7 linked regions of the Homo sapiens genome follow. The protein of the gene in region 6 interacts with the protein of the main gene of each other region in a pairwise test. Each region holds a gene or a part of one and is shown on either strand. Other genes may lie near its edges. The genes, in order: MFF, MAGEA6, ADORA2A, SLC7A14, TMCO5A, BET1 and TMEM237.

Region 1 (3,500 bases), on a different chromosome or scaffold from region 6:
CCACATTATTGCAATGAACTGTGTATATGCTGGTGAGGGGGAATTGGGACAAATAATTTTTTTTCTTTTTTTACTTTTTGGGACATATAATTTTAATGTACTGTGACTCTGCCATCTAGCTATTATTACTTTTTATACAAGATTTGGAAATATCTCTCTCATTCAGATATTTTAAATGTAATAGCATTTGATATGATATACTCGCACCTAATAATCTGGTCTCCACTAAGGACTTATTGTAATTAAAAAGTTAAACAAGTTAGCTGATGGACAATAAATCTGTTTTAAGGAGGGAAGAGAAAACAGGCCCTTGTAAATATTAGCTCTTAAGTGCCAGCTACTTTATATGCAATATCGTTTGAAAGATCTCCTACCATACTAAATAAAGAATTGGAGGCCATTATCCCTATATTATAATTAAAGGTGGGGGAGGGGAGAAGATCCTCACAAGAATTCACAAAGCTAGATATTATTACCCTTCCTCTCTATTTCTCAACAGATGAGAAAAGTGAGGCCAAAAGAAGCTAAGCAATTTGTTCAAGGCCATCATGCAGCTATGTAGTGGGGTGGATCCGGGTTAATTCTAACTGACTCCCTGAATCCATGCTTTTTGTTCTGAACCTTGCTGCTTCTTACAGCTTCCCAATAGTCCAAGAATGGCTTTGAAGCTTCAAAAAGCATAAAAGGGAGTCTAAACCCTTGGGGAAAAACAAACAAAACAGATCTATACATATACATGTATATATAATTCCCCTCCCCACACCCTCATGCCATGAGCTTTCTTTTTAAGCTCTTCTTAGTGCAGCTTTCAGTCCTTGGGCCCAAATGCATAGCACTAGGTCAACTCTGGGAAGGCTCAGAAAGGCCCTGGATTCAACAATGATAAGTAGCATGGACAGGTGCTTACGAAGTATGGTGACATACCCAGGGCCTGTGTGAGGACTACAAGCACTCAACAAGAAAAAGTTTGTCCAGTGCAAGTCAGAAGTCATATTCGTTCCTAAGGTAAGAAACAGGATTTATTAGAAGGGATAGCTTAATTTATTGTGAAATTCTTCAAAATGCAAAAAGTAACAATTAAATAATCATGAAAATTCAAACCCTGACTACCAGAAGCCACTAGATAAATGTTCAGAGTTGAAATGAAATTGACTCTATCTTTCCCACACTATGCCAAAAAAGCTCCCTGAATTTCCTTTAAAACATTATGTAGTAATAAAGCAAGGACAAAAAGTACTTGAGATAACTGCAAAAAAATTATTTGTATGAATAAGTCTAAGTATACTACTGATGATTTTACCTGGAGATGTTCAAAAGTGAGATAAATTATCAACACTGAAAAATATCAGTATTATCAAAAAGATGATAGCACCTGGAATTTTCAAAACAAGCCTAGAAATCCGTAGCTGAGAGGAAAGGAAAAAAGTGTCCTGGCAGCTGCGCTGACATCACCTCCTCAGATTTGCTTTATTAATCCAATCATATCAGCAGCATAAATGATTAAATCAAAAGACTAACGAGGACTAGTAAACTTCAGTCTAACACTCAATCCAATGGGACGGGGCCCCTTGGCATATCCCTAAGTGGAATCAAGTACTTAGAGTAGGCTAGAAAAGCCTTTGAAAAAAATCACTACACTTTCTATGTATACTCTCCCTGACAGAAGGAAAGCTAATGTAATCTTGTGAAATGTGAATTTTGGACAATAATTTCAAATTAAAAGAAAGTAAAGCAAGCTGTTTCAAATCATTGCATCTTAGAAAGAGGCTAGAAGGTAAAAACAGAAAAGAAAGACACCACAGTCCACTAAACAAGAGGCCAAAAAATATGCAATAAAGCTGTCAAGAGTCACGGATGGCCAATCACCTGCGATTTTCATCCAGCACATCCAAGATCTGCTGGTATGCCCTACGAGTAGAAGACTGGATAAGCGACAAAATGCCACGAGCAGAGGAAAGATTAGCTCCATCTTCAGGTAACATATGGGGAGGACAGACCCGAGCCTGTTGTGGCGATGGTGTCACACTGTTTACACAAGCACAGCAAATGAAGAGAAAAACACTCAAGTCAGATTTTTATAAAACTTCAGCTGAGCAGTCTTTATCTTAATTTTCTTAGTGTTCTTGCCCCTTTCCCACCCTTCACTCTCCCCACAAGAAAACAGTCAAAGAATAAATATTTTGAATTGTTTCCAAAAACTAGCTACAAGGCAGCACTTATAACTTTGTAACCCTAAACATCAAAATAAATAAACTGAATATGAAAGAACTGTAGAGAGGGAAGAGAACTACAGCAATGAATGTGTTCAACCCCTCCCATGGAGAAGCAGCATTCTTTACTTCGTGTTTATATTCCAATTCAATAAACCAACTTCTAAGAAACAACACTGCTGTCGACTTATGGATGATTAGAAGAGTAGGACAGGGAATTCTCACATACAGATGTCAAAGTTTAAACACATGAATCAAAAGTGTGATTCCATAAAAACACCATTTCAAACACTTCGTAAAGCCAATGAAGTTGAAGTTTATGACGAATAAATGACACTGATTTAAGGATGAATTAGTCTTAGAAAATGGTAACAAAGCATTTTGATTGTTTAATTATAGTAAGCATATGTTCTCTAGTTAAATGACTAAAGCATAAAAATATTCCCAAATCTGTGAATACAGCAAAAGAAGGCAAGGACACTTCTTAAATTATCAATGGCTGATAACCATTTCTGGGCTTCTTAGTGACAATAATCTTAATCGTTCTTTCATGTGTGGGCTGAGATTCACAATTTCATTTGACTCCCCTGCCAGTGCTTTCTGAAAGCTGAATGAACCAATTCTTATGGTTCTAACCTAAACTCTTAAGATCTGTGTCAGTATTTTCAGGGAGCTGTTTAACATTACAGTATGATTATCTATTGTGAGGTATTTAACTGACATACAGACTACGACAGTGGAATGAGGGCTCAACATTCTCAACGTCAAGGCAAAACTAACATCAGGCTAAATGTCATCCAATGTGTATTACATCTGAAAGAATAAAAACAAAGCAGATGGTAAACAATTGAAAAAAGAAAATCTCTTATTTTGACTGTGTAATCTTTTCTAACAGCATGTATTTGTTTGGAAACTACAAAATAAGTGGGATAATTTTTGACAGGATAGTTATAGTCATCTGATATTATTCCCAGAGTCCCAGAAAATTAAAAAACAAAATCTCCTCCACAGCTTTATGAATAACTTTGAATGGCTTGGTGATCCAAAGACAGAAGTACCATAATATGAAAACCATGTTTTTCAAAGATTACTTAAAAGATCTAAGCCAAATCTTAACGTATAAAGCAACTATCTATCAAGCCTGATTCACTATAGGATTTAGGTCAAATTTGGTGTCAAGATAAACTCAAATTTTCAGATGCAGTCTCATGACCAGTGACCTTAAATGTCCGTCCAGAGACTGGCAATCTCTGGGAATACATATAAGCCAACATTATCTACTGATCCATG
Region 2 (3,972 bases), on a different chromosome or scaffold from region 6:
TTTTCCTGCACGAAATATTGGGTGAGCAGCTTCTTGGGATCCCCGAAGATACTGTCTTCCCTCCCCTCAAACACCTCTAACACACTCAGCTCCTCCCAGATTTTCTCCTCAGGGGCACAGTCGCCCTCTTTTGCGATTATGGCCAGGATGATTATCAGGAAGCCTGTCTTGGGCATGATCTGATTGTCACCCAGCAGGCCATCGTAGGAGAGGCCCAGGCAGGTGGCAAAGATGTACACGTGGCCGATGGGGTCCACTTCCATCAGCTCGATGCCAAAGACCAGCTGCAAGGAATCGGAAGCTTTGCTGAAGATCACAGGAAAGAAGTACTGCCAATTTCCGACGACACTCCCCAGCATTTCTGCCTTTGTGACCGGCTCCCTGGCTCGATACTTGAGGAGCAGAAAATGAACCAACTTGGCCACCTTCCTACTGAGTGCTGCTTGGAACTCAGACTCCAGGTCAGGGAAGGTGCTTGGCCCCTCCTCTTCTTGGTTGCTGGAGTCCTCATAGGATTGGCTCCAGAGAGGGTAGTTCATGGTAGTGGGGAGGCTGGAGGCTCCCTGAGGACTCTGGGGAGGATCTGGTGACTCGGCAGCAGGCACCTCCCCCAGGGTGACTTCAACTAGAGTAGAAGAGGAGGAGGCAGCCTCCTGCTCCTCAGTAGCAGGAGCCTGCGCACCCACCAGGCCCAGGGCCTCTCCTCGGGCCTCAAGGCCTTCTTCAGGCTTGCAGTGCTGACTCCTCTGCTCAAGAGGCATGATGACTCTGGTCAGGGCAACAGGCGGGAGTGTGGGCAGGAGCTGGGCAATGGAGACCCACTGGCCTGGGGAGAGAGGGAGCATGTGAGAGACCTCAGCTGAGTACTGAATGGAACCTTGGAGGCTCTAACAAAGGCTTACTTACAGATCTTCTCCTTCAGTGCTCCTCCGGGGGCCTCTGTTCCTCCACGTCAGCCTGTCCCCTCAGAACCTGAAGGAGGAAGTGAGAGGGCACCTCAGGGTACATCCGGCCAGCACATGCTGAGGCTGCAGGACTGAAAGTATTGAGGGTGAGGCCAGGCGCTCTGGAGTCCATGTGTTCTGGGGCAGGTGGGGCCCTTGGTTTGAATCCAAGGCAAACCTTCACCGTTGGCACTATCTGAGCCCCCTCTACTCTGTGACCTGAGGACACTGCCTCAGACCAAGTCCTCACTGCCTTGTTCCTGGAGCTCCTGATTCCTGGGAGAGGAATCCACGGGCCCCCAATGTGCAGACAGCAAACGCAGCCACGGATTCCCAGAACTGTCAGGAGGGTTGGCCAGACTCTGTGAGGTCCCCACTCTACTGGGGTGGAGGATCCCCTCTGTGCTCACTCAGGGCCCTCACCTTTCTCCTTATAGGACCTAATCCCTCCCTTCTGCTGGCCTGAGAATCTCTCATGTCAAGAACTCACATACCTGATATGGTACAGAAAAACATGAGGGGACCCACATCTGGCCATACATTCCCAGGTCCTCCCGGAAAGGACAACGAGAGATGTCCAAATTTATTGAAGTCCATGTACCCTGGGTGAGGAGACTGCTTGGTCCTCACCTCCACTCCTAGTAGGGTCTGAGAGCCTCCCTCTACTGCCCTGAGTGCAGTCCCCTCAGACCAAGGCTTCCCCTTCCCTGACATCAGTGATCCTAGGATAATGGAGGGACCTCAGCTGACAGCCCTGCCCAGGCTCTCTGAGGTAACAGCAGGAGCAGGGCAGATTTTTATGGGGCCCCCAGTCCGCATTCTGTCCCAGGGGTACCCTCAATCCTCCCTCAGTCTCTTCACCTGGATGCTTGGCAGATCCTAGGACCACTGCATCTGTCCACCACATAGGGGCCCCTTGGGGGTACACCTTGGGCCCTGCAGATCCTGGGATTCCTCCCTCTGCTGACCTGAAGTCCCACTCTTCAGACCACAGCCCTCAACTCTCTGGTCACCCTGAAGGCGCAATGAGCACAGAGCACATTTGGCCACTGTGCCCAGCATCCCCCAGCCCAAGGTTGCCACTGATCTGGACTCCAAGGTCCCCTCAGTCCTCCCTCTTCTTCCTCCCCATGACTCCTCGCAGGGCTGGGCCCCAACCCCCTGCTGAAGTGGGTCTGCATCCCTAGGATTCCCGTAGCCGAATGAAAAGGTGCCTCGGTTTGAGACAGGGGTACAGTGGGCCCCCTGTCCTGGCATGCTGGGTCCCCTCAGGACTCCACTGTCTTCCAGGAGGGCCTGGGCCCTTTCGCTGCCTCCCAACGGCCATACTCGCGATACCGAACCCCTTCCCTCCCTTAGCCGTAGATGTGAACCTCAGGACTCACGTGCCTGGCCGCCATTCCCGGAGCTTCCGTGACTTGATACCAGGGGCAAAGCCCGGATTCTGCCAGGATAGGGGTGGGGGTGGGGATGGGAATGGGGAATGGGGGATGGGGGTGGGGTTGGTGTTGGGGGACGGGAATGGTGGTGAGGGTGGTGGTTAGGCTGCCCTCAGTTCCCTCTCGGGGTCCTGACCTTGATTCCTGCCACAGCGTGGGCCCTGACCTCTTCTAACCAGCCCTGCCCTGGCCACATTAAGCTCTGTCCCCAGAGTTCCCCGTGGCTAAAGCGGCGGGGGTCGGCGGGGTGAGGTAGTGGCGACCCAGCCTGGAAGTCTTCCCCTGCGGGGTGGCCCAGGCCCGGCAGCAGAGGCAGCACTGGATTATTTGAGGCCCTCTGTCTGAGGTGAGGCCCGCCTCAGTCCTCCCTCAGCGTCTTACCTTGCCTCCTCACCGAGCCTGGGCCGGCTTCCCTCCGCCGACGTCAGGCCGTCGCTCGTTGCTCAGGGCGAGAATCTCGCGGTCTTCTGACCTCCAATGCGCAAGTCAGTGGCGTCACATCCTGGCAACGGTACTACCCTGGGTTCCGGGCAGGGGTGGAACTGGATTCTGCCTGGATGGGGATCGGATGGGGGTGGAGGTAAGCATGAAGATGGTGATGGGGCAAGGGGTAAGGATTGGGACGGGGGTCCTGAGGCTGTAGATCCTGGTGGGGTCGGGGGAGTTGGGGGTGGGTGGGCGGGGCCTTCGGTCATCCCTCAGGGTCCTGAAGTTGATGCCTGGCTGAGCCTGGACCGCCATCCTCTGCAGATTGCTTCTGCTCCCCTCAGACCAAGTCTCTGACTCTGAGTCCCCCTGAAGTGGCATTGGGGGAAGGGGTGTGGTCTGGGTGACATCACTGCCTGCGTTTACCAGGGCTGACAAGAGGGGCTGAGCTGGATTCTGTGGTCCCTCTATGGTGTGTGGGGTGGGGGGGCGGTGTGGACCCTCAGTCCTCACTCAGGAGGGTCGTTTTCGTCACCTCTGGCTGTTGGATGAAGTGATGGGCAGGAGATGCTCTGTTTCTGTCACCTGTGAGCATTTGCACAGCTGCACCCCTTGTAGAGAATGCCTGCGGGTCCCAGGCCAGGTGCTCCCTGCAGGGCGGGGCGGCAGCTCCCGCGGTTGTAGTGACCTCCTATTTCAGTCTTTGTGTTCTGTTGAAAGAATTTTTTTTTTTAAAAAATGTAATTCCTCTCCCACTATGGTGGTTTCAGGTTGTTATTAGCAGAACTCTGGAGTCATACTGCCTTAACCAACCAAATTTTCCTGGTGTCCTGCTATTACCTAGGGCTCTTGGCATCGTGTTTTCAGAGGCTGCCTCAGATTGTGCAAAGAAGTGAAGTGGAAAATTTCAAACTTTTATTCTACCCATTCTGTCATCTACCGTGTAGGCCGGCTACAAACCTCCCCAACATCCCTGCTGCTAACCCCCTCCAACCAACACTGCAAGTGTCAAACACAAGTACCAGCTCAACACAGCCTTGAGTCTCACCCTGGGCTTTCCCTGTTTTGTTGCTGATACTGGTTTTTTATTTACTGTTTCCATTCTGTAATTTTCCAGGTTTGATTTGGGAAGCAGAGCACAGCAGCCCAAATTTGTTGTAATG
Region 3 (3,500 bases), on a different chromosome or scaffold from region 6:
GCCCGTGAGGCAGGCGCCGATGATTTGACCCCACCAGCAGGGCTCTGGGTGATGGGACTGGGGAGTCCTCCTTCACTTTGGCAGACGTGTTATGTTCCACCTTGTTTGCCCCCAGCAAGGCCCTTGAATCTGGAGCGTGGTCTGGGGCTGCATCAGCCTTCTAGCCTGGGATGGTCAGATTGGCAGAAGGCTGTGGCATCCTTCAATGCAGATGCCCTAGAGAGGGCCGTGGTGGGAGGCAGGATCCCTGGGTAGAGGCGGCTCCTCAGTGGCCCACTGGGCCTCACTGGACAGTCGCCTGTTGCTGCTGCTGGTGGTGCTGGGCCTGGGAGTCCACCTTGGAGCCACAGGCCAGGCACCTGGGTGGGAGGCAGCCCGGGGCCAGCACCAGCTCCACTTGTACCTGTTGGGCAGGGGCTATCGTGAGTCAGGTGGGCCCTGGTGAGTACTGCTCAGGGAGAGAGGCCAAGAGCATCAGGGATAACTGTGTTCCTTGAGTGTGGCCAGGGATGGTGCCAGGAGAGCTGGTCTGGTGCATCCCTGCCAACGACACACTTTGTGAATGGCTGCCTGGCAAGTGCTCCATGGAAAGCAGGGGCTTGGGAGGACTCGGCCCTCTCCAGCTGCTGCAGGCCCTCCGTTGCTGCAGGGTTTCTGGCTCTGCTCTCTCCTTCCTCCTCCTGCTTCTGTGTCAATGCTCCATTCCCAGGCTCCTAGTAGGGGCAAAAGGGCCTGCTGGGTGCAGGAGAACCTCCAGTCCCAGGTATGGCTGCAGCCCGTGCCAATCCTGTTCCAGCCACTTGAGGTGCCGACAGCATTGGAGTTGGAGGGAAAGTTGGGGTCTGTGTGTTTGAGCTCTGTCACATGGACAATGGGGTAGAGGGGAGCCTGGCCCTTTGAACAGGGCTCAGGACCAGGAGTGACTTCCTCTCCAGGTTGCCAGTCCTGCTCCATCCCTCATGTCCTGGAAGAGAGAGAGAGACGAGGTGGCTGCCCGAGTCCACGTGAAAGGCAGCCTCTGACCTCTTGTCCCCAGGCAGGTGGTGGCGGCTGGCAACACACTCATAGGGCCCCATGAGGGTTCAGGATTGGAGGGGGTAGATTTGGGGGCCTCTTAGCTCTCAAAGAGGGGCAATTTAACGGGCAGAGGTCCATTTGGATCCAGACCATTCACAGGCTCGAAGGGGACACTGGGAGTTGGGGCTGGGCTCAGGCCTGCTGGGGAACCAAAACTTCTGCTTCTGAGGGGTGTCAGTAATTCCATTTTGACTCTGGGGGAGCCATTTTAAATCTGTTTATTTCCTTCTCATAGAATCATGGGTGAGAGCTGGCATGGCCCCTAGAGGTCATTTGGGGTCCAGCTGCCTCACCGTATCAATGAGGAAACTGAGGCCCAGAAAAGAAAAGCATTTTTGCCCAGAGTCCCTCAGTGAGTCCTGGTTCCGTACCTGCTTTCTGCCAGGGACCAAACTCCCGTTAGTCATTCCTGGTGTCAGCCAGGCAGAGGAGCAGGTGGGGGAGAGGGCGTGGGAGGAGGGAGGTGAGGCAGCTCCCTCCGAGTGGAAGCTCACAGTCAGCTGCAGCGCCGCCCCTGCCCTGACTGCAGCTGACTGGCAGGGGCACCTGGAGGCAGCGGGTTCGGGCGCAGTATGAGAGGGCTTACCCTCTGCGGCAGTGGGAGACAGGACCAGGCAGCTCCCCACATCCTTCCACATCCGAGCTCCAGGGGTCTCTGGCTTGTCCTTTCACAGGGCGGCTGGTGTCCCTTAGGTGGGTGCTGGTAGTTCCTGGGAGAGTTGACGGGATGGAGCAGGCCAGGGGGGCTGAGAAGTTGGCCTGGCGAGAGAAGGTGGGTGGGACTGGGAGAGCCTGGGCAGGGAGGGGCCTTTCTGGGAGGGAGTGTCATGGGGCTGGCCGAGATCCAGGACCCAGGAGACTGGCCAAGCTGCCACAGGAGGCCTGAGAGGCTGAGCATGGGGGGGCCAACACTGACAGACTTTAACAAGTTTCTGGCTCCCCCAGGAAAAAAACAGACCACATCTGATCCTTGGCCCTGAGTCCAGAGTGGGAGGCACCGTGACAACAATGCGCAGAGCAGGGAATGCAGGGAGCCATGGATAGTGCTGGGGTGAGCTGGAGTCCTGGCAGGGGCCCAGCTAGGGCAGTACTCATTCTGCAGAGCCTGGGAGAAGGGGCTGCCTCCTTGGGAGGGGTTTGTGTGGGAGTCTCAGCGGGAATTCTATTGGACCAGGGGAACCAGCCTTGCTCAGTGACTTCTCTGGGTGTCCTCCTCTAAAGTGAGGGTCAAATTCCCACCTCTCTCGCCTCCTGGCTATGACCACAGCAGACCAGGCAGGGCATGGGGCTAGGCGGGGTCAGGGGCCATCCTCAGGCTGACACCTGGCCTGTGGGTAGGGTGGGATCTGAAACTATAGGGTCTTCAGGGGGCCAAGTGTGGGGTAAGGGGTGGCACTTTCCGCAGGGCTCGCCCTCTGCAGATGGTTCAGCTTCTCATCGGCTGTCCCTTTGCAGGTGCCTCAGGAACCCTGAAGCTGGGCTGAGCCATGATGCTGCTGCCAGAACCCCTGCAGAGGGCCTGGTTTCAGGAGACTCAGAGTCCTCTGTGAAAAAGCCCTTGGAGAGCGCCCCAGCAGGGCTGCACTTGGCTCCTGTGAGGAAGGGGCTCAGGGGTCTGGGCCCCTCCGCCTGGGCCGGGCTGGGAGCCAGGCGGGCGGCTGGGCTGCAGCAATGGACCGTGAGCTGGCCCAGCCCGCGTCCGTGCTGAGCCTGCCTGTCGTCTGTGGCCATGCCCATCATGGGCTCCTCGGTGTACATCACGGTGGAGCTGGCCATTGCTGTGCTGGCCATCCTGGGCAATGTGCTGGTGTGCTGGGCCGTGTGGCTCAACAGCAACCTGCAGAACGTCACCAACTACTTTGTGGTGTCACTGGCGGCGGCCGACATCGCAGTGGGTGTGCTCGCCATCCCCTTTGCCATCACCATCAGCACCGGGTTCTGCGCTGCCTGCCACGGCTGCCTCTTCATTGCCTGCTTCGTCCTGGTCCTCACGCAGAGCTCCATCTTCAGTCTCCTGGCCATCGCCATTGACCGCTACATTGCCATCCGCATCCCGCTCCGGTGAGCAGGGCCGGGGTTACATCTGTGCAAAGGCTGTTGGTGCCCAGGCTTTGGTCTGTGCCCGGAGCCAGGGTGAGCCTGGGATCAGGGCCTGGTCTGCAGTGTCAGCATGGTGAGCTGGCGACGGGGCCCCAGGCTCAGCAGGGGCTCCCCAGGGCCAGCACGTGGCCAGCAGTCATGCCGAACTGACTGACCCCTATGGGCGCAGGGCAGCCTGGCCCTCCCAGGCGGCCTGGGTTCCCCTAGGCTGCCTGAGGCCAACTGTGCTCTGCTTTTTGGCAGATGAGTGTGGCCAGGGTCTGGCATTGGGCTTAGCAGGGAGCTGTGGTCCCAGTGACCCACGTGCTGCCAGCGGGTGTGTC
Region 4 (3,500 bases), on a different chromosome or scaffold from region 6:
ACAAAAATTAGCCGGGTGTAGTGGTGCATGCCTGTAATCCCAGCTACTCGGGAGGCTGAGGCAGGAGAATCACTTGAACCCAGGAGGTGGAGGTTGCAGTGAGCTGAGATCACGCCACTGCACTCCAGCCTGGGGGACAGAGTAAGCAGAGTGAGACACCATCTCACCAAAAAAAAAAAAAAAAAAGAAATCAAAGATTTAAAGTGAATTCTTTTTTAATTATATACCAAATCCTGGGGTAGGAATAGCAGCTGGATTTAAAGTAGTGAATGCAGAAGTAAATTGGTGGAGCAGGACCAGGAGGAGTTAATCACACCAGCCTATTGATAGTTCTAGCTCCCTATGTTGGCTGCACTGGAATCGGTCACTGTAGCTCACCATTAACCCTCTGCTTGCCCGGCCCCTCCAGGTTCCTGGCTCACGTCAGCTCCTACACAGAGACACCAGTGGTGGCCTGCATCGTGTCGGGGTTCCTGGCAGCGCTCCTCGCACTGTTGGTCAGCTTGAGAGACCTGATAGAGATGATGTCTATCGGCACGCTCCTGGCCTACACCTTGGTCTCTGTCTGTGTCTTGCTCCTTCGATACCAACCTGAGAGTGACATTGATGGTTTTGTCAAGTTCTTGTCTGAGGAGCACACCAAGAAGAAGGAGGGCATTCTGGCTGACTGTGAGAAGGAAGCTTGTTCTCCTGTGAGTGAGGGGGATGAGTTTTCTGGCCCAGCCACCAACACATGTGGGGCCAAGAACTTACCATCCTTGGGAGACAATGAGATGCTCATAGGGAAATCAGACAAGTCAACCTACAACGTCAACCACCCCAATTACGGCACCGTGGACATGACCACAGGCATAGAAGCTGATGAATCCGAAAATATTTATCTCATCAAGTTAAAGAAGCTGATTGGGCCTCATTATTACACCATGAGAATCCGGCTGGGCCTTCCAGGCAAAATGGACCGGCCCACAGCAGCGACGGGGCACACGGTGACCATCTGCGTGCTCCTGCTCTTCATCCTCATGTTCATCTTCTGCTCCTTCATCATCTTTGGTTCTGACTACATCTCAGAGCAGAGCTGGTGGGCCATCCTTCTGGTTGTTCTGATGGTGCTGCTGATCAGCACCCTGGTGTTTGTGATCCTGCAGCAGCCAGAGAACCCCAAGAAGCTGCCCTACATGGCCCCTTGCCTCCCCTTTGTGCCTGCCTTTGCCATGCTGGTGAACATCTATCTCATGCTAAAGCTCTCCACCATCACATGGATCCGGTTTGCGGTCTGGTGCTTTGTGGGTAAGCAACTTCCTTTGGAGCCTTAAGAGTTCCCTTTTAAGGTCTTAAGCATGCTTATCCCAAAATTACCTCCTAGCTGGACTAGGCAACTCCGTTCCCAGAGAAATCTGGCTGGTTCTATGGACCCTTGTGTTCCGCCTAAGAGTCAATAAAGCCAGTTGTCCCCTTTCTGCCTGTAATGTTCTTAGTCATTGGTTCTGGAAAAATGATGTTGATTAATCCATCGCTTTACTGAATTACTGAAAGTTCTTTCTATATCAGGATAATTAATACCAGAAAAAGTCCACTTAAAGTGAATCCACATTTTTAAGGTGACAAAAATAGCATAGTATAATTGGGGTCAGGGCATTTGGATGGAATTTTATCATAGAAACTAAGAATTGTAAAATGAAAAACTATCTTAGATTTCACAAAATTAAATTAAAATAGCAATTATGCTCTCATTTTTAAATGAACAAGGTGTGAATTAAGTGTGGATTTTTTGGCATAATTTTTCTGACAAAATTGAATCATGGCATCATTTAACATCTCTCACTTCATACTGACTTTTGTAAAATATTCAAAAGTTTTTCATATTTCCCAAGGTCCTTTCTTCATTCATTGACATTCCAATCATTCACTTGGGAAGTACCCATCATGCCACCATCCTTACTGATTTTCTCTCTCCTGCTGGTAATAACTAATATGACTCTGTTAGGTCCTCAATTGTCTACAATTTTGGGTGTGAATTCAAATTGTTCTCTAAACTCACTTTCACGGACTTCAAGAAGTCCTGTACCTTCTCTAAGATTTCTAATTTTACTTTGTGATCCATTTCTATTGTATTTGCAGTACTTGCTTATCATCTAGGACAATCTCTGATGTTCATGAGGTGGCTGGGGATTGATGCTAGTAAGAACTTGAGAAGTGTAATGGAAGACTCATTTTAAAGTTCCTTAGTCACTATTTGTATGTCCTCTGAACAACTTGGTAACCCTGGGGTCTCTGATAACAAATTCTTAGCTAAAGAGGATCTTTAGAAGCTCTGGGGAATAGAAGAGTAAACCCTGCCTAAAGGAGAGGCAAGACAAACACACGAGTCACTTAGCCCAAGAGAGGCCAAAGAGACTCTTTTTGTTGTTGTTGTTGTTGTTGTTATTTGTTTGTTTTGTTTTGTTTGTTGTTGTTGAGATGGAGTCTTGCTGTGTCGCCCAGGCTGGAGTGCAGTGGCTTGATCATGGCCCACTGCAACCTCCGCCAACCAGGTTCAAGCAATTCTCCTGCCTCAGCCTCCTGAGTAGCTGATATTACAGGTGAGTGCCACCATGCCCTGCTAATTTTTGTGTTTTTAGTAGAGATAGGGTTTCACCATGTTGGCCAGGCTGTTCTCGAACTCTCAACCTCATGATCTGCCCACCTCAGCCTCCCAAAGTGCTGGGATTACAGGCATGAGCCACTGTGCCCAGCCCACAGAGACTCTTAGTGATGAGTGGCAGTGCATCCACTCCTAGAGATCAGGAATACACTTGTTCAACATGTGTCCTCCGTGTCTGGAGCAGGGTGCCCGCAGTATGTGCTCAAAAATACTTCTTAAATTATTATAAAGTACTCTTCAAAGGGGAAAAAGGAAAACTTCCAGTCAGAATTGCCAGAAAAAACTTGGAGGGGGTAGAATACAAAGTGGCCCTATAAGTTAAGATATAGATAGAAAGAAGTGGGGGAAAAAGTAGCAACCAATGGAAAGGGCATATGTCTTCCCCAGAGGCCTGACTCCTTGCTTCTGAAGGCTGCTCTATGGCTTCCTGTAAGCATTTTGTCCCAATTTTTCACTATTCTAAGTCCCCCTGGTTAGACTTCAGGAGGATTTCTTGAGAGGACCCCACTGACTCATCAAGATTTTAACCAATTTTTATAACACATTTACAATCTCTTGGCTGGGCATAGTGGCTCACGTCTATAATCCCAGCACTTTGGGAGGCCGAGGAGGGCAGATCACCTGAGTTTAGGAGTTCGAGACTAGCCTGGCCTACATGGCAAAACCCCATCTCTATAAAAAATGCAAAAATTAGCCAGGCGTGGTGGCAAGTGCCTGTAATCCCAGCTACTTGGGAGGATGAGACAGGAAAATTGCTTGAACCCAGGAAATGGAGGTTGCAGTGAGCTGAGATCACACCACTGCACTCTAGCCTGGGAGACAGAGCAAGACTCCATTTCAAAAAATTTTTTTAAAAAAA
Region 5 (4,232 bases), on a different chromosome or scaffold from region 6:
GGCTGTTGTGGGGGCACTGGAGAACACAAGTACCCTACCTCACCTTTTGTTGAAGTTCTGTTATACTGTGGACCAACGTCTTATTCTTCCTTTCCTGTGAGAGAGAAATAACAGTGTAAATCTGCCTCTGTACTCCATCTGTTCTTATTCAGTTGATTGCTGTCCATTTCACCCCAGCTATATTTTCCTGCAGTAACTTGACCTTATTTGCATAATGTCATGTGTATATTGAAATCAAACCACAGGTGAAATACAGGGATATAGATGCCCATCTGCAGGGCTTCCCAATGATTAAACATTGCCCAAGAAGCCAGACACATCCCCTTCCACGCATGGACAAATTTTATCATGACTTTTGAGATGGCTACTGTTCATGTATAAAAAGGAGAGACAAGCTTATCTGATAATTGATGAAGGATGGAATGAGGAATGCAACCTATTAAATGGCTCTTCCCAACTTCTTGCTTACAAGTCTGGCTGTTTCTTCCTCCAGCTCCTGCAAGGCTCTTTCCCTTTCCATCGTGGTGCGGTTCTCCTTCTCCCACTCTTCATCTTCCACCAGGCCCCGCGTCTGAATGATCTCACTTTCCAGCCTGGACAACACAAGCACATGCCATGAGGACCCATGCTTGGCAGTTTCAGAACTGATAAAACACAGATTTCAGATATAAGGGAACTTCAGGGACAGTGTACATGAATCTCAAGCTGAAAACTCTTCCTTACTGAATCCATAAAGCAGGAAGACCTGCCTGATTCCTAAGCCAAACACCCCAGTGTTCTCTCAACTCCATCTTTTAGGAATCTATTTGAAACTTGCTATGCTTCAGTGTTCAAGAGAAATGTCAAAGAATGAAAAATTAACTTTTTGCCACACAAGGTAGAAGTCTCTAGAACAAGCAGGAAAATTCAGTTTTGGTTTTGGTCCTCCACCCCTTCTTTGGATTGGGAACTTCCCTCATGAAACCTTAATACTCACCTCTGAATCTTATCTTCCCTCTCTTGGATTTTGAGAAGAAGTTTCTGATTTGCTTCATCTATTCTCTGCGTATCCCTTTCAAGGTCCATGTTCAAACTGATAATGTTTCTTTTTGACTGAGCCAATCTTGAGATTTCCATTTTCTCCGACCTATAGACTCAGCCCCCAAAATGAACAAGGGCCAGTTATCTCAAGATCAATAATCATCAGGCCAAAAAGGGTATTTAGAACACATCTAGTTTATTAACCTTACTCTCTCTGGGGGCATACCATTTTCATTCTTGAAAAATTACATTTCTTGATCATGCTCTACAACTGTTTCGATAATTCGCAGCTCAGTCAGCAAGGGTCTTTCCCAGGCTTTCTCCTCCAAAGTGCTCAATCTAACAGTGCACCTTCACTCTGGTTTCTTGAGAAGCTTTGCTTCCTTAAATAACCCCTTGCGCTGGGGAGAAATGTTTCTCTTGGCAATCTTTTCTTAGATAAACTATTCACAAAACCTGCTCATACAATACACATTTATTGAACACTTTTATCTAAGCACCTGGCATATCACTTCTGGTTGGGCCTGGCTTTCTGCAGAGCCACAAGGGGTTTCCACCAGCATGATAGGGCTTCAATCTTTCCCTTCCTTCTCCCACCTCAACACCTCTCCCTCACTTGCCTGCTACAAAGTTTGAAATTTTTACCATGAGAGTAATTCCATTGAGCACACCCACATAGGCTCTAGGCATAGCTTTCAAAAATGCAAATATCTTTTTTGAAGTAAATTTAAATGAAATAATGGTAACTCTAGAGTATTTTGGGAAGGGTACATGGGAGGCTCTTGATATATTTTTCTTTTTCTACTAATGTAAATTAATTCATTGGTTTGTGTTTCAGTTGATTAACCACTATTAGCACAGTGAGGCACAGAGGCTTTTGTTTTAGATAGGAATGAAGGATAATATTGGAAAGTTAAGTCCTATCTTGGAAGGGCTTGCTTGGATGGGGGATTTACAGTAATCACTTCAGGAAGGTATGGCATGCTTGGGGTAGGGTGCGGAGGTGGTTGCATAACAGGAGTAGAAGGGGAGAAGGAGGCTGGAAGATGAGGCAAGGGGTCAATAGCGAACCTGCTTTACACCTTGGTCTCTGGATATGGCTTTGCATAATCATGACTACTTAATCCAGCTGATCTTTCTTGTGTCCTTCCATTGTAGATTCCCTAAAATGCCAACAGAGATGTATCTAATGAATTGGAGAAATGGGTTCATTTATGAATACAGTAACTAGGGAAGAGTCCCAAAAAGTAGAAATCAAATTAAGTTAACTCATTTTCTCCCTCTAATCCCCACATTTTAACCATGACAAAACTCAGCCTTTTGATTCTTCTGCCCGTGTTCTGATTATACCCTATTAAAGATACAGTCAGGATACAGAGATAATGCTGGAATATACGTCCTATTAATAGATATAGTCAGAGATGGTTTATCAACATAAAACCCTGTGGAAGTTTATACAAGACAATATAAAGAAATAGAGATAATCAATAAGTCTCTTTTTGCTCTAGGCCAGTTGCTTTCCATAAAGCCCCATGGGCATGGATGTAGGTTTACAATATCCCTGAAAAGTAATCTTTGCTCTCTATCTTTGCTTATGCCAGAATTTCCAGATATTAAGATCTTTAGTATTAAAGAGGGCTCAGAAAACCAAGTATATGTAAATCATTTGTCTCTCCCTTCCCCTTAGTTTCTTTTTTTCCCCTTTATTTCTTCTACAAACTCTACCTCCCCTTTTTGATGTGTCTTGTCTTCCTGATCCTTCCCTAGTCAATTAGCTTCTGAGGAGTCTAATCTTTCTCCACTGGAACTATCCAATAGAATCTCAGAACATTCTGAGAGGTCATGACATAGGATGGGCGGGGCAACATGTCATAGTGGGGTGGGTGGCAATGGTTTCTCATCATTTGTGTAGAGTCCAGAGCCTAGATAAGTGTGTGGATTTCATGGCCAAGTCTTCCCTGGATAGCAGTAGGTTCAATGGATTTGATTTCTGGGCTGTTTGAAGGGGCAACCTCTATCTTTTATTTCTCTGGCAGATAAAGCTCTCTTCCTGCCTCAGTGTGACTAAAATGGAAAGTCTAGGTCTTTTGGCCAGCAGTCTAATTTCATCATGTAGCCAACTAACTACTCATTCATTCAACAAACAGTGAAACACTGAATGAACACGATGTGTATCTTCTAGGCTCTGTTCTAAGCACTGGAGGGAAAGAATGAACAAAGCAGCCAAAAGCCCTTGACCTCATGAAGTTTATATTCTAAGATGTGTGTGTGTGTGTGTGTGTGTGTGTGTGTGTGCGCGCGCGCGCGTGTGTGTAGGGGGGACTGGTAACACAATCAATAAAATAAATAAAATTATTTTTACTTGATATGATAAAAGAGGAGACTGCTGAAATTTTACCCCAAAGAGTTAAAGAAACCAGTGACTAACAAATTCTTGAGCTTGCAGAATAGCAGATAAGAAAATAAACAACTTGCTGAAATGCTGAAACTCCCTCTATTTGAGAGATTTCAAAACAAAAAACCTAGCTGAAATTGGTTGGAACCAATAAGGCCAACTGGAGTCTGTGCAGAACAAGCTTACTGATGTCACAGCTTGAATTTCCACTGCATGTTTTATACTAATTTCCCCTGAATTTGCACATGGGACCCATAAGGAGGCATGAAGAGATAATCGTGCATGCCTGAGGACTTTCCAGACCTCCCCTTTTCTTCTACCAGTCATTTGCTAATTCCAGAATCCACTCCCTAAACCTTTTCTAATAAAAGTACTGCCTGAGAGCCAGCACAGAGAGACAGATTTGAGTTGGATTCCTGTGTCCTTGTTAGTAGACCTACAGTAAAAAGCCTTTTTTTTCTCACAAACCTTGTGTCATAGTATTGGCTTCCAGCACATTGGGCAGTGACACTCTTTTGCTTGGTAACACTGCCATGAGGAAACATAAACAGGTGAAGGAGGTAAGAGTGAGGAGGTTGTTGCAAGTATAATTAGGGTGGCGCAGAAGAAGCGACTGAGCATTCTCAGACCCGTTAAGTGGGGTGTAGATGTGGTAAGAAGCTTGGTGGACAAGAGAAGCCCTCCAGTTGTGCTGAGATGGACACAGAGTCCAGCAGATCTAGGAGCATGAAGGGAAGGCATGAAAACCCAAAGCTTTTCCTGTGATGCTTCCTGGGTACCTAGCTCTTCCTTGTACCTGCCACCATCTTAGGAAAGA
Region 6 (3,500 bases):
AAATCCAGTTGTGGAATCAAATTGTGAATCCTATCAGAGATAAAGGCAAATAAAATATCACAGTTAGATTCTAAGAGTCTACATATGCATATCCAAGTAATTGAATAACTGTTACCATAGTACATTTGTAATGACAGTTTTGTGTTTAATCAATTCAGGAGCCTGTTGATAACCTTGGATAATCAGCCTGATTTCTCCATGCAAAATACAGTAATACTCTCAGCGAATAAAAAGCTCTTTCATTGTCCAATAAACACTTCTTTCAGCTCCACAGAGTAATTCAACAACTCAAAACTATTTAGGTGTTATTCCAATTATGTGGATAAAAAAAATTAACAATAAATGTAAGTACTTTGTGCATTATCACACAGATTTTTTTCCCCACTTTTTGTTGTGCCATTGCTCTCCAAGGTCAAATGGTTGACTGCTACCCAAGTAGAGGATTTCATCCAAAATGTAATACGGTTAGCAGTTAAATGTACTTTTATTTACTTATTTATTTATTTAGAGACGGAGTCTCGCTCGTTGCCCAGGCTGGAGTGCAGTGGTGCAATCTCAGCTCACTGCAATCTCTGCCTCCCAGGTTCAAGTGATTCTCCTGCCTCAGCCTCCCAAGTAGCTGGGACTACAGGCGCACGCCACCACGCCCAGCTAATTTTTTTGTATTTTTAGTAGAGATGGGGTTTCACCATGTTGGCCAGGGTGGTCTTGAACTACTGACCTCAGGTAATCCGCCCACCTCATCCTCCCAAAATGTTGGGAGTATAGGCGTGAGCTACCATGCTAGGCCTTGGACCTTTACTTTTAATATCCTTTTGTTTAGACAGCTGACTTTGAAGTAGAGTCTATTAAGTTAAGAGAATATCATATAGAGGTAGTAAAATGTGATAAGGACTATAAATATGGATGGGGAAAAACTAACGTATTAAAACATAGCTGGAAAATCCTAAAGATGAGAGAGGCTTAGGTAGGGACTAGAAATATTACACATACTTTCATAGAAATTATAATATCCTGAGATGTAAAAGCCCTGGCATAATAATAAATATCCTTTGTATAGCTCAGTGTCTATGTGGCTCATATACTTTAGATCTATGGATCTTCACCATGGTTATGCATCAGAATCACCGGAGATGCTTTTTCATGGTTATGCATCAGAATCACCAGAGATGCTTTTTTCAAAATATTTACATCTAGATCCCTCCTCACGAAATTCTAAATCAGTATATTTAAAGACAGAATCAGGCATATACATTTTTAAAGAGGTCCCTAGCTTATTATAGCGCACAAGCTTAGCAAGAACATTGCTTTTGATGCCAAATTCATTTTTGAATAGCACAATTTTAAAAGCACATGGAACCAGAGAAGGTTCAGAGAAGCTTGACATTCAAGATAAACGTTAACAAATGGAAGGGGACTCTAACAAGAAAAGGTATATGTTGTTAGAGAGAAAAGGCTCTGGGCTGTTCAAATGTATGAGCACTTTTTTCATAAGTGATCCTTAGGAAATCAAGCAAAAGAGTAAGTATCCATTAAGTGAACGACATTTAGTTGGTTGGATATCAAGTGCCTTTTGATTGCTTGGTTAATAAATTACTAGTAGTCTCTACTATTGAGACTTCTAAGACTACTCAAAATAGTCATTTGTCTTGTTTTTAACAATCATTCTAAAAACAGGATTAAAGATATATTGGCTTCCACTTGTTCCTCCCACTTACATGCGTAAGACGAGATGAAAAATGCAAAAGCATGGCAAAATAAACCTTATAGTTATTCCAAACACATTAGATACAAATGGACGGGAATCAAGGACTTACGATCTCTGTATTTCAAAATGAATAAAAGTTGAAATTCTATTATTTGCGAATATTAGATCAAATTTCTTAAAGTTAAAATCATAACCACTTACCATTTCAGCTAATAATTTATTCTGGGTTTTAACTTCATGGCCTATTTCAATGGAAAGCTATAAAGAAGAAGGTATACACAGGATTACTCACATAAAAGTATTCAAGTGTTATAAAGTAAAAATAATGTCATTCTAAGCATACACATTTTCTGAAATGAAACGGTCTTCTAGACACATAAACTCTCTTTTTCTGATACTTTTTCTACCAAGATCAATAAAAAATAAATTTGGAATTTCTACTCCTCCCAATTATGGACATTTCTTCTTTCCTCTTTATTTTAATTTCATCTTAATATTCAATTCCATCTTTTAATTTGGTATGTACTACTTCTCTCTGATTCTCTTAACCTTGTATGCTTTTATATCTTTATTATATTCCTACAAAAGCTACAAATTCCTACAAATATCTGTATATTTCCTTCTTACATTTTATTTATTATATTTTATAAATTATATATATATATTTTAACTTATTTTAGGTTTGGGGGTACAGGTGAAGGTTTGTTATACAGTTAAACTCATGTCACATGGATTTGTTGTACGGATTATTTCGTCAACCAAGAATTAAGCCTAGTACCCAACCTTATTACATTTTGAAAGATCTAGAAGTACCCATACAACCAATTCAAATCTAGACAGAAGTATTTAATATTTTCCTAATGAAATGTTACATTACTTTAAATATGTCTAAACTGATTTTTCCTTAGTTTAAAGGTTTTTGCTTTAAAATATGATAATAAATTGAAAAAAATAAATATTAGTGTTACTTACTTCCTGAAGCTCTGAAGAAAAGAGCCATAGCTTACAAAATACAATACTATAGCTAATTATGACAACTATTCAAACCAAAATCTATCTAATACTTTATAGGACAGATTCATCAAAGGCTTCACTTCCAAGATATTTAAATAAATAGAATCATCTACTGAAAATCTTGGTAAATCACTGCAAATATTGTTCTTCATCTGTGTGAAAGCACATGGGATAATACTGATACAAAACCATACTAGAATTCTATAGATCAGAACATGAGCTTTCCTCCCAGATTTAACAACTCAGAGATAATAAAGTAACTATAAAGCTAGACTGCCCACATTACTCAACTTCTATCACTGTCATTCATGCCAAGGAAAAATATTTCCAGGACATCACAACTTTCTTCTAACAAGTAATCTAAATTATCTACATTGGGGGGGTTTTTAAAGGCATTTAATTCTTAAGTCCTTCCAAGTGTTGTATTTTTAAAATTAACATTATACAATATTACTTAGTTCATAAATCAACTTTAGTTTAATATGACTTTGAAAACAATCCTGTTTCAAAATCTAAAGGTCTCCAGACTGAATGTAATTCGATTTTCCAAAGACTATATTGAAATACCAATTAAGTTTTATCAACATGGGCTTCTACTGAATGCTTTATAAGTGAACGTCATGTTCATTATAATGCAGTATCAATCACATATATTATTAAAATCATCTTCGTGTAATTCTTTGGTTCAATACAAATTTACTCAACACCATTGATAAGGAATTATGCTAAGTGCTATATAGAATATAAAGTAAGTACAATAGAAAACCTGCATTCTGGT
Region 7 (3,500 bases), on a different chromosome or scaffold from region 6:
AAGAGAAAAGAACTTCAAGAATTTTAATTGGGCAAAAATGTTTTCACTATCTTACAAATTTTTAATTTTTTAAAAATGTTATACTTCTAAACTCTCAATGTAAAAATTGAAATTGTAATGCCAAACAATATGGAAAAAAATTAAGTAACCCAATACCCAGGCTGTGCTGAAGATTCCCAAGATTATCTCCTGGTTCGCTGACTTTCTAGAAGGGCTCACAGGACTTGGAAATCATCACACTCACAATTATGGTTTACTACAGCAAATGGATATAAAGCAAAATCAGCAAAAGGAAAAAGTACATGGACCAAGTCCAGAGGAAACCAAGTACAAGCTTCCAAGAGTCCTCTATCAGTGGAGTCAAATAGGATGTACTAACATTACTGGAGAGTAATGAGTTGTGACAACACATGTGACACATGTTGTACAAAAGAAGCTCATCAGAGACAGTGCCCAAGGTTAGGGGCTAGTCACATAAGCCTAGCACATACCAAAATTCTGGATGCCCGGAAGGGAAACAGATGTTCAGCAAAAATCACTATGTGTGCACAAATGCACCGTGAGTCACCTTATAATTTAGGGAAAGTTTTCTATCAGTGTAGGGAGCTGTTTATCATCCAAGTTCCCAGATGCCAGCTAACGGCCAATCTTATCAGCAGGCTTTTCCAAGGATAGCAGTCTCAGGTCTGCTATATTAACTCTTTTCTGCACACAGGGTAGGTATTAAGTTTAAATGAGTCAGTGAAGCCTTCTTCTAATCCACTAGCTACTCTTCCTACCTGGAAATACTAGCTCCCTGGAATACCTTCAAGACCTTACAATTCTATTGTAATAAAATACTTACAGCCTCGACTGGAAATATAATGCAAGCAGTAGAGCCTACCATTGGTCATCCTGAACAAAATAAATAAAAACACAATTTTTAAATCCAGAAACTTAGAAAGGTGAACCTGCCAGGCTTGGTGTACTTTGGAATGGCAATGACAGGTCCTTTTTGATTCAAAACTTAGTTGGGTCCTGAATTTTCTAAAAAAGTCATTTCTGTAAACACACTTTTCACAAATTATAAAACTAGGTATTGGTATCCATCTTGATTTTTAAACTTGTATCTTAACTAAATTACTAAAAGGGCACTTTTAATGAAACTACATTTACTGCCACTAATGAAATAAACTGTAGAGTAGTTAAAGCTAGTCTGAGCACCATTTCTGTCTCTTTTCCTTCTTCTGCCATCATCCGCCCCTTCGTTCTCATAGACCCTCAGTGCCCCCAGGCACTGTGGCATCCCACTTCAACTTGCCTTCCAAAATTATGCTCCATTCTCCTGACTTTTCTAGTTCCTGCCCTTCTACTCCTATAATTCTTCCATCCAATCAAGACACGCCGTTTTCTAGAAGGACAAGTAATTAGGAAAATTATAATAAATTATTAATAAGGGCTGATGTTAATAGGAGAGCACTAATCTCCCCATCTTTGTTCCTTCCCTGAGTTTTGCTCCAATACAACTCTTTGTCATTTTTCTAATTATTATAAAAGTCATAATGCTCAAAATATAAAAAATTAGTAAAATAAATGAAGGAAGAAAATTTTAAAAATCATACTTCCTCCTTCTAAAACTTCTACCACTGTAACACTGCTATATTCTTCCATTCTTTTTACTATGTAGATGTATGTACATATTTACGTTCTGGGTTGAACTGTGCTCCAAAAAGAGATATGTTCAAGTCCTAACTCATAATACCTGTGAGTGTAACCTTATTTGGAAACAAGAGTCTTTGCAGATGAAATCAAGTTAAGATGAGGTCATGCTAGATTGGAATGGGCCCTAAATCCAACAACTGATATCCTTATAAGAGGGAAATGTGGACACAGACACACAAGGAAAAATGTGAAGATGGAAGCAGAGATTGGCATTATGCCACCACAAGTCAAACAATGCCAAGGACTGTCAACAACCATAAGAAGCTAGAAGAAATGGCCAGGCGCGGTGGCTCACACCTGTAATCCCAGCACTTTGGGAGGCCGAGGTGGGCGGATCACCTGAGGTCAGGAGTTCAAGACAAGCCTGGCCAACATGGCAAAACCCTGTCTCTACTAAAAAATACAAAATTAGCCGAGCATCATGGCAAATGCCTGTAATCCCAGCTACTCAGGAGGCCGAGGCAGGAGAATCGCTTGTACCCGGGAGGCAGAAGTTCCAGTGAGCTGAGATCGCACCATTGCACTCCAGCCTGGGCTATAAGAGTGAAACTCCATCTTAAAAAAAAAAAAAAAGAGGCTCGAAGAAACAAGGAAGGATTCTTTTCTAGAGACTTCAGAGGGAGCATAGTCCTGCAGACAACTTGATTTTGGACTTCTCACCTAAGAACTATGAAAAAATAAACTGTTGTTTGAAGTCACACAGTTTGTGGTAATTTGTTATGGCAACCCTAAGAAATTAACATAGTATATTTTACAAAAATGGGATCCTCCAATACATACTATTTTATAACCTTTGTTCTTTGATTTAATAATACACAACTGATGATTATCTGTGTCACCCTAACAATCCTTTTAATGGGTACCTGGTTCCTATTTATGGATGAAGTATGATTTATTTAGCCAGTATCACACCGTTAAATATCTGGGTCATTACCAATTTCTACTCTTATAAATAACGCTGCAGTTAACATCCTTTAATTACTGCAGCTATTGAATTTACTACTATTCCCAGAAATCCAGACAGGCTGTATCTATGCTCCTATGAGCAAAGCATGAGTGCACCCATTTCCCATCAATATTGGATTTTATAATTTGAAAAAAGCATTGCCAATTTGATAGGCCAAAAAATGGTATAGTATTTTATTTACCTTGTGAACTGCCTGGGACATAGAAAGACTAAACAAATGTTAGCTGTTGTTTCACTATATTATTGTTAGTACAGAATCTACCATTTCCCCACTAATCTGAAATGTCCATTTCATCATTTACTAGATTTTTCTATGCACTGAGATCTGAACTTTCTGTTTAGTCCTGTATTTGTTGCCCTCCTCTCATAATCTATACATATATGATCAAAAGAGACCTGTAAAGTATTCTTGGCTTAAGCCATTGGAGTTATTCTAGTGGTAAATATTTTAAACATAAAAGCAAGAAACCACCTGTGGGATATGGATAGGGGGAAAGAAATGAAAGCAGAGAGGTTTTTATCATGTCATCAAAATCACAAGTGCTATCACAACTTAACCTTGGTTTCTTCACATACCAAGAGGTAGCCTTGTCTTTTTCTGTCTTCTTTGAACAGGAGCCTCTGGGTGCTCTTTGAGTTCTTTAGTTGATGGCTCATTGCCCTCAGAGGGCCTTCGACCAGCAGTCTGAGCAAGGCCTTCCAAAGAAGCACTTGCTATAGAAAAACAGAGTAGAAAAAAATGAGATTACTTGAGCAAAGATCACTGAATCTTAAAAAGATGGAGGAAAAGGTAACTAGAATGTTTCCTATAGAATAACCCCATCTCTTTCAG

Evidence for each region.
Region 1: the proteins of BET1 (region 6) and MFF interact in binary tests that used the Homo sapiens proteins (3 or more experiments, as listed by UniProt).
Region 2: the proteins of BET1 (region 6) and MAGEA6 interact in binary tests that used the Homo sapiens proteins (3 or more experiments, as listed by UniProt).
Region 3: the proteins of BET1 (region 6) and ADORA2A interact in binary tests that used the Homo sapiens proteins (3 or more experiments, as listed by UniProt).
Region 4: the proteins of BET1 (region 6) and SLC7A14 interact in binary tests that used the Homo sapiens proteins (3 or more experiments, as listed by UniProt).
Region 5: the proteins of BET1 (region 6) and TMCO5A interact in binary tests that used the Homo sapiens proteins (3 or more experiments, as listed by UniProt).
Region 7: the proteins of BET1 (region 6) and TMEM237 interact in binary tests that used the Homo sapiens proteins (3 or more experiments, as listed by UniProt).

What each region holds. Positions count from the first base shown.
Region 1 is NC_000002.12:227,345,751-227,349,250, reverse strand, and holds part of MFF (mitochondrial fission factor), read right to left. Parts: intron 2,026-3,500; coding exon 1,867-2,025; intron 1-1,866. UniProt on the Homo sapiens protein: Plays a role in mitochondrial and peroxisomal fission. Promotes the recruitment and association of the fission mediator dynamin-related protein 1 (DNM1L) to the mitochondrial surface.
Region 2 is NC_000023.11:152,766,890-152,770,861, forward strand, and holds the start of MAGEA6 (melanoma-associated antigen 6), read right to left. Parts: upstream 2,801-3,972; 5' UTR 2,765-2,800; intron 1,037-2,764; exon of another isoform or gene 973-1,036; 5' UTR 907-972; intron 827-906; 5' UTR 762-826; coding exon 1-761. UniProt on the Homo sapiens protein: Activator of ubiquitin ligase activity of RING-type zinc finger-containing E3 ubiquitin-protein ligases that acts as a repressor of autophagy. May enhance ubiquitin ligase activity of TRIM28 and stimulate p53/TP53 ubiquitination by TRIM28.
Region 3 is NC_000022.11:24,430,599-24,434,098, forward strand, and holds part of ADORA2A (adenosine receptor A2a), read left to right. Parts: intron 1-298; exon of another isoform or gene 299-964; intron 965-1,649; exon of another isoform or gene 1,650-1,836; intron 1,837-2,022; exon of another isoform or gene 2,023-2,128; intron 2,129-2,532; 5' UTR 2,533-2,806; coding exon 2,807-3,138; intron 3,139-3,500. UniProt on the Homo sapiens protein: Receptor for adenosine. The activity of this receptor is mediated by G proteins which activate adenylyl cyclase.
Region 4 is NC_000003.12:170,478,076-170,481,575, reverse strand, and holds part of SLC7A14 (solute carrier family 7 member 14), read left to right. Parts: intron 1-409; coding exon 410-1,287; intron 1,288-3,500. UniProt on the Homo sapiens protein: Imports 4-aminobutanoate (GABA) into lysosomes. May act as a GABA sensor that regulates mTORC2-dependent INS signaling and gluconeogenesis. The transport mechanism and substrate selectivity remain to be elucidated.
Region 5 is NC_000015.10:37,933,208-37,937,439, reverse strand, and holds the start of TMCO5A (transmembrane and coiled-coil domain-containing protein 5A), read right to left. Parts: upstream 2,801-4,232; 5' UTR 2,746-2,800; intron 2,184-2,745; 5' UTR 2,135-2,183; coding exon of another isoform or gene 2,103-2,134; 5' UTR 2,092-2,102; intron 1,127-2,091; coding exon of another isoform or gene 1,117-1,126; coding exon 977-1,116; intron 594-976; coding exon 470-593; intron 95-469; coding exon 44-94; intron 1-43.
Region 6 is NC_000007.14:93,994,356-93,997,855, forward strand, and holds part of BET1 (BET1 homolog), read right to left. Parts: intron 1,967-3,500; coding exon 1,910-1,966; intron 31-1,909; coding exon 1-30. UniProt on the Homo sapiens protein: Required for vesicular transport from the ER to the Golgi complex. Functions as a SNARE involved in the docking process of ER-derived vesicles with the cis-Golgi membrane.
Region 7 is NC_000002.12:201,633,504-201,637,003, forward strand, and holds part of TMEM237 (transmembrane protein 237), read right to left. Parts: intron 3,383-3,500; coding exon 3,245-3,382; intron 1-3,244. UniProt on the Homo sapiens protein: Component of the transition zone in primary cilia. Required for ciliogenesis.